2 linked regions of the Homo sapiens genome follow. The protein of the gene in region 1 purifies or fractionates together with the protein of each later gene. This does not show direct contact. Each region holds a gene or a part of one and is shown in the gene's direction. Other genes may lie near its edges.

What was found.
Region 2: the proteins of TRIM10 (region 1) and ZMYM2 purify together in Homo sapiens (affinity purification with mass spectrometry; 4 studies listed by BioGRID and IntAct, with this or other methods). This does not show direct contact.

The regions. Positions count from the first base shown.
Region 1 is NC_000006.12:30,151,443-30,154,827, reverse strand, and holds the end of TRIM10 (tripartite motif-containing protein 10), read left to right. Parts: intron 1-341; coding exon 342-859; 3' UTR 860-1,056; coding exon of another isoform or gene 1,057-1,140; 3' UTR 1,141-2,885; downstream 2,886-3,385. UniProt on the Homo sapiens protein: E3 ligase that plays an essential role in the differentiation and survival of terminal erythroid cells. May directly bind to PTEN and promote its ubiquitination, resulting in its proteasomal degradation and activation of hypertrophic signaling.
Region 2 is NC_000013.11:19,965,227-19,968,726, forward strand, and holds part of ZMYM2 (zinc finger MYM-type protein 2), read left to right. Parts: coding exon of another isoform or gene 1-55; intron 56-3,062; exon of another isoform or gene 3,063-3,176; intron 3,177-3,500. UniProt on the Homo sapiens protein: Involved in the negative regulation of transcription.

The DNA.
Region 1 (3,385 bases):
CAAGCTGGCACGCACAGCTTTGGAAACCAGCCAACTTGCGGTGAGCAGAAGAGCTTTCCCGAGGACCACACTGAACTAAACGAGAGCTTTCACATCCTCTGAGGCAGGCTTTTCAGGCTTTACCTGTGTGCAAATCACCTGGGCATCTTGTTAGGATGCAGATTCTGAGAGCGTATATCTAACAAGTTCCCAGGTGGTTCCACACTGTTGGCCCACGTAGGCACTATACATGTTTTTGGTAATAATAACACTAACAGGAGGGGCCCAGGGGGAGTTTCTATGCCTTCCTTGGAGGTAATAGCATGTCTGCTGACATCTGTCCCTTTTGGTTATCCCCACAGCTCACATTTCTCTAGACCCTCAGACTTCCCACCCCAAGCTCCTCTTGTCCGAGGACCACCAGCGAGCTCAGTTCTCCTACAAATGGCAGAACTCACCAGACAACCCCCAACGTTTTGACCGGGCCACCTGTGTTCTGGCCCACACTGGCATCACAGGGGGGAGACACACGTGGGTGGTGAGTATAGACCTGGCCCATGGGGGCAGCTGCACCGTGGGCGTGGTGAGCGAGGATGTGCAGCGGAAGGGGGAGCTTCGGCTGCGGCCAGAGGAGGGGGTGTGGGCTGTGAGGCTGGCTTGGGGCTTCGTCTCGGCTCTGGGCTCCTTCCCCACACGGCTGACCCTGAAGGAGCAGCCCCGGCAGGTGAGGGTGTCTCTTGACTATGAGGTGGGCTGGGTGACCTTCACCAACGCTGTCACCCGAGAGCCCATCTACACCTTCACTGCCTCCTTCACTAGGAAGGTCATTCCCTTCTTTGGGCTCTGGGGCCGAGGGTCCAGTTTCTCCCTGAGCTCCTGAGAAGGAGCAGTTACCTACTCTCCTCTAAGTACAGGACTCATATCAACCCAAGTACCATGTGGACTTGATCCCTGGCTGAATCACCTGGATGACTTGGAATAGAAATGACTGCTTTAGAAGATGGGATGGGGCCGGGTGGTAAGGGATAGAAGAGAGGACTCTCAATCTACTGATCAAGTCCTTTCCCCAATGCCCAGTGGATGGCCAGGGTACCTGGGGACTCAGGCTGCTGCCAGTTCTGCTCACCACCATCCGTGCTTGGCACAGAAGTAGCTGCATAGAAAGGGCACTGGATTTGAAGTCAGAAGACCTGGGTTCTTGAACCAGCCTGTCAACCAGTTGTATGACTTTAAACAAGGCATCTCACCTCTTTTCATCTTGTTTTCTTCCAATAATGTTAGAGTTCATGTAATCACATTCTCTAGAACCATTTAGTTTGTGTTAACTATGAACCAAGCAGTGTGGTGGCCACTGGTGACTTGAAAATATAGAGAAAAAAAAAACCTGCTCTATATCTGAAAGAGCTCTTGGGAAGACAGAGAAACATAAAGAGGAAATTACAGCACAGTGTGGTGGGTGTTACGGGAAGTCCAACCCCAGCATTATGGGAGTTCAGGGGAAGGGGCATAGCCCAGCCTGGAAGGAGAGGGTGAGTGGGGGATGGCTTTCTGAAAAGGGTGGTCTAAAGGATGCCTATGGTCAATAGGGAAAAGAGGGGAAGAAGCATCTTAAGAAGAGGAAACAGCAGAGAACTGGCTGGATGACCTGTGACTCTGGAGCACTGGGTTGTCTCCATTGTCATTATGGGCAGATGTGTGCCATCCCCAGCCGACGCCACTCACTGCCTCCTTCCTCCTGGTGTTGCCACTTCTGGGTGAGATTAAGGTGCAGGGCCTGGGGGCAGGAGGACATAAGGTATAGCCATAAATCATAACCCAGGGACCACACTCAACCCTAGGGAAATTGTCTTCCTGATCAGTTGATTACCATCTGAGGTCAAGAAATGAGATAGTGGGAGCAAATGGGTCACAAATAGCTCAGCTGTGGGCTCAGAAACTGCTAGGTAAAAGAATTCCAGAAGGAGGCCAGGGCATAAGTTGGATGACCTATGAACTTTAGTCTAAAGAATTGAGACTACCGTAATTGAGACTACTGTAGTGACATCTGAGAAATGGGATGGAAGAGTGACCATGTTTTATTTTCTTGTTCTTGTCACTATTGTATTTTATTTTGCATAATCATGCCCTTCACTGACAGTCTCCTTAACATCATCTGTTTACTCTGCTCAGTGTAAACTACAATGCTCTGTCATCTCCCTACTGGGTCTCCTGGGAGGAGGGGAGCCATCCAGGGTGCAAACTCAAAGGCAGAGGGCACAGCGTGCTTAGGCCCAAGCTTAGAATTCAATTGAGAAGTTCTGTTGTTCATCCTTACCTCAGCAGGTAGAAAAGAGGTGGAGATCAGAAGCCAGGGATTAGAGATTGAATTGCTTTCCCTGGGAGTGTGCAGTATCTCATTAAAATGTTGTATATTCAAAAAAATACAGACACACACAAGTGCCTATATAATGATAAAACATATCCAAAGCACCCAAACCTGTGATTCCAGAAAAGTAGATCCTATTTTTGTTTATTTTTATTGGCTTTAGCTGTGTCTTTTGAAAGGACTATTATCCTCTAAAATGTATGTGTATGAAGATCCTGGCTTGCAGCTCGGGAGCTTTACACACCTTGTGTCACTTTATCTTGGTAACGAGCCAAGATCATGCAACCAGTTCATCCATGTCTGACCCAAGAGCTCTTAACTGCTATGCTGCACTGCCTCATTCAGAGATAGATGCCTGCATGGGTCCTGGCGATTATTTTAATGCTGGCTACACCCCCACAGGTGACTTGGATTCAGAAATACAATTTATATTTCTTCTTTTTAAATTGTTTTATTTTATTTTTCTTTTAATAGTTATATGTCAGTGAGAACAATTTATATGTCTTACACTGAGAAATAAAACTGCTCATAAGTGAAAACACTCATGTTGGTCTGTCAGTACCTGCTTCTCCCCTAGGGTAATTTTACTTGAAGTTTACTTGCTTTCGGAGTATGGAGTCAGCACAGGGGAAGTGGATAGATCCTAAAACCTGGTAACTTCAAGATAAGGCAGCTTAATGAACCTCCTTGCTCTGCTGGCCGGAAGTGGGACTCTGGGTTCCCTCCCCAGGAAGTGCTCAAGTCTAGAGGCCCCAGAGTCCCAGCTACCCTTTCCGACTCTGAAGGACTGTTGCACATTTGTAACATCCACAGTTTACACCTCATTTTTCAAAGCTTACATGGTAGCAACCCTTTCTATTGCAAAGAACTGAGACCCACTCAAGTTAGTTCAAATGATAGGTAAGTTTATTATAAAAGCAGAAATAAGGAAAATGCGATTTTCCACCATGAGCCAGGCCCCGTGAGAAGCTATGTCAGGCGTGAGCGAGTTGGTGGGGTCACCACTCGTTCCTGTAGGAAGAACTAGAGATTCCAAAAATG
Region 2 (3,500 bases), on another chromosome or scaffold:
TGTGTATATTACTCTCTGCCGTAGTCACCTGGATACCATCTCTGGACTTACTAGTGTAAGAATTGACAACTAAATTTTTGGGTTTTGTTACTTAACATTAAAAAATGACTTCTCTTCTAATACTGGAACAGTTTTATAATCATTCATTTCAAAGAGGTATGTCTTTTTCCTAGGAAGAATAGTGTTTCTTGGAATATCAAGTTGGACTAGACAGAGTGTTCAGGGTAATAATCAGGGGACTGATTTAACAAATTGGATATTACAACACCTGTTATATATTAGATAGTCATAAAATATGTGTTCTGTTAATTATGGGCTAGCAGTTTCTTTGGCTCTGCTTGGAAGAGCATTTCATCTAGACTTAGTGAATTGTGTTTCTAGTTCTATAGAACTAAGGAAAGGTTTGGGTGGAAGTGAAAATATAAGTTAAATGAAAATTTTATTTTATCCTCCTGTTTAGATTTGTACTTTTTTTCGTTCCAGGCTTGTCATATCTTATTTTAATCATTTTAATTATTTCTGGCCCTGATATGGTATCTGAATTCTTTTTTTTTTTTTTTTTTTTGAGACGGAGTCTTGCTGTGTTGCCTAGACCAGAGTGCAATGGCATGATCTCAGCTCACTGCAACCTCCGCCTCCTGGGTTCAACTTGAAGCAATTCTCCTGCCTCAGCCTCCTGTGTAGCTGGGATTACAAGTGTGCACCACCACACCTGGCTAATTTTTGTATTTTTAATAGAGACAGGGTTTCACCGTGTTGGCCAGCTGGTTTTGAACTCCTGAACTCAGGTGATCCACCTGCCTGGGCCTCCCAAAGTGCTGGGATTACAGGTGTGAGCCACCGCACCAGGCCTGAATTCTTATATATTTATAATTCTATATTTGCTTGTTTTTTTTTTTGTTTTTGTTTTGTTTTGTTTTGTTTTGAGACAGAGTTTCTCTCTTGTTGCCCAGGCTGGAGTGCAATGGTGCAATCTCGGCTCAACGCAACCTCCGCCTCCCGGGTTCAAGTGATTCTCCTGCCTCAGCCTCCTGAGTAGCTTGGATTGCAGGCATGAGCCGCCACGCCTGGCTAATTTTGTATTTTTAGTAGAGATGGGGTTTCTACATGTTGGTGAGGCTGGTCTTGAACTCCCGACCTCAGGTTATCTACCTGCCTAAGCCTCCCAAAGTGCTGGGATTACAGATGTGAACCACTGCACCAGGCCTGAATTCTTATATGTCTATAATTCTTTTTTTTTTTTTGGATACAGAGTTTTGCTCTTGTTGCCTAGGTTGGAGTGCAATGGTGTGATCAGGGCTCACCGCAGCCCCTACCTCCTGGTTTCAAGCGTTTCTCCTGCGTAGCTGGGATTACAGGCATGTGCCACCACGCCGGGCTGATTTTGTATTTTTAGTATAGACGGGGTTTCTCCATGTTGGTCAGCCTGGTCTTGAACTCCTGACCTCAGGTGATCTGCCTGCCTTGGCCTCCCAAAGTGCTGGGATTATGGTCGTGAGCCACCGCGCCCAGCCTGCTTGTTTTTTTACCTAAAGAAAAATTTGCACTTGTTTTAATTAGTTATAGGAAAATCATGATTATAAAATTTAACAAGTTTTAGCTTTATAACTTTACTATGAATATTGTCTCACTTTATTTTGATTTTTGTCTGTCTTATTATTGTATAGTCCTGTTTCTTAGCCAAATAAGTGTTAACTCCTGCCTAGGAAGTCATTCCATCCTATGTCTCTGTACGGTTTTACATTGCTTATGGAAGAGAAGCTTCTGTTCCAGTTAGTCTCTCTTCCATGACACAGACTCCTGACTTCTGTTATTTCATGTTTTCTTTATTTGTATATCACATTTTCCTTTTTCAAGGACCTTACTCTTCTGTTTTCATTCAGTCTTCCTCCTGGACTTACCTGTTCATTTGTCTTTCCTTTTCCTAACTCCTTTTGCTTTTTTTAAAAAAAGAGCACAGTATCTGTAATAGCATCCTATATAAAAGTCTGATTATACTGTCCTTTTAGGGGGTATGTTTCCAAATTACAGTAAACTCGTGAATTTGGTGAGATCATGATATGTGAGTATGGTTCTAGAGATATATGAGGGCCTCACATGGAAAGGGAACTAGTGAGTACTAAGAGAAGATTGGAAGGGTAACGACTTAATTTTGCAGATTTTCTGCCAAAAAAAGCCATTTTTCTCATTGTAGCATGACATGAGTTGGAGTCATACAGATTCAGGCTTAAATCTGCCCTGCTCATGAAGGGAGTTTTGGGGTGATAGAGTGTTATATAAAACTGGATTGTGGTGATTGTTGCAGAAGTATATACATTTAATACATTTATCAAATCTTTCACTTAAAATAAGTAAATTTTACTACACGTACATTATGCTTTAATATAACTATTAAAAACAATTTTGCTCCAGTATTTACCAGTTTGCGATATCAGGCAAGTCATGTAACATCTGAGCTGTAGTTCAGTCAGTTAACAAATGAGTATGGTAATGCCTGGTTTCCTGAGATTGTTGAGGTGAGGACTAAAAATAATACAGGGTATGCAGCTGGCCAATAGTAGGTGCTCAGTTAATAGCAGCTGCAATTCTTAAACTGTCTGTTTATATGGACCAAACATAATGAATTTGCTGCCACCACCTGGTATGGTAAACTTAGTGTGTGCTTATCTGGTAATGACTAGAAGAATTTCTATGTTTCTCTTCACCGACTTCCCTCTTCTGGCTTTTTCATTAGTCTGCAGTGCTTTATCCTCCATCGAGATAAAAATGCTTTATCCTCCAGAATCTCTGCATCTTTTTCTAACGATTTCTTCTTTTCCCTATACTTTTAGAAAGAAATCCACTGTCTGATCTGCACTGTCAACACTATAACAAATCTCTTCTGAGGTCGCTAGTGACCTAATTGCCAAATCTTTTAACTGCTTCTTTTTGTCTTAATTCTGTAACATTTAAAATTTTTGCTTCTGGGGCTTAATGTGGTCTCATAGTTATGACCACCTCCTTCACTTCCCCTCGCTAGACTTTCCTTTTTTTGAGCCAGAGTTTTGCTCTTCTTGCTCAAGCTGGAGCGCAATGGTGTGATCTCGGTCCACTGCAACCTCCGCCTCCCGGGTTCAAGCGATTCTCCTGCCTCAACCTCCCGAGTAGCTGGGACTACAGGTGCACTGGGATTACAGGTGCGCGCCACTGTCCCTGGCTAATTTTTTTGTATTTTTAGTAGAAATGGGGTTTAACCATGTTAGCTAGGCTGGTCTCGAACTCCTGACCTCAGGTGATCTGCCCACCTTGGCCTCCCAAAGTGCTGGGATTACAGGCGTGAGCCACCGCACCAGACCTCCCCTCACTAGACTAATGTTGAGACCTTTAAGTGTCCTTTACTGTCATCTTTAGCTCTTACTATGCTTTTAACTTTCACCTTAGTCTGTTAGAAAACGGAATTATTTACAAGGCAGTTTCTTCCTATTCTTGACTCCATTGTAGCCAGATTAATTTTTCCTAAA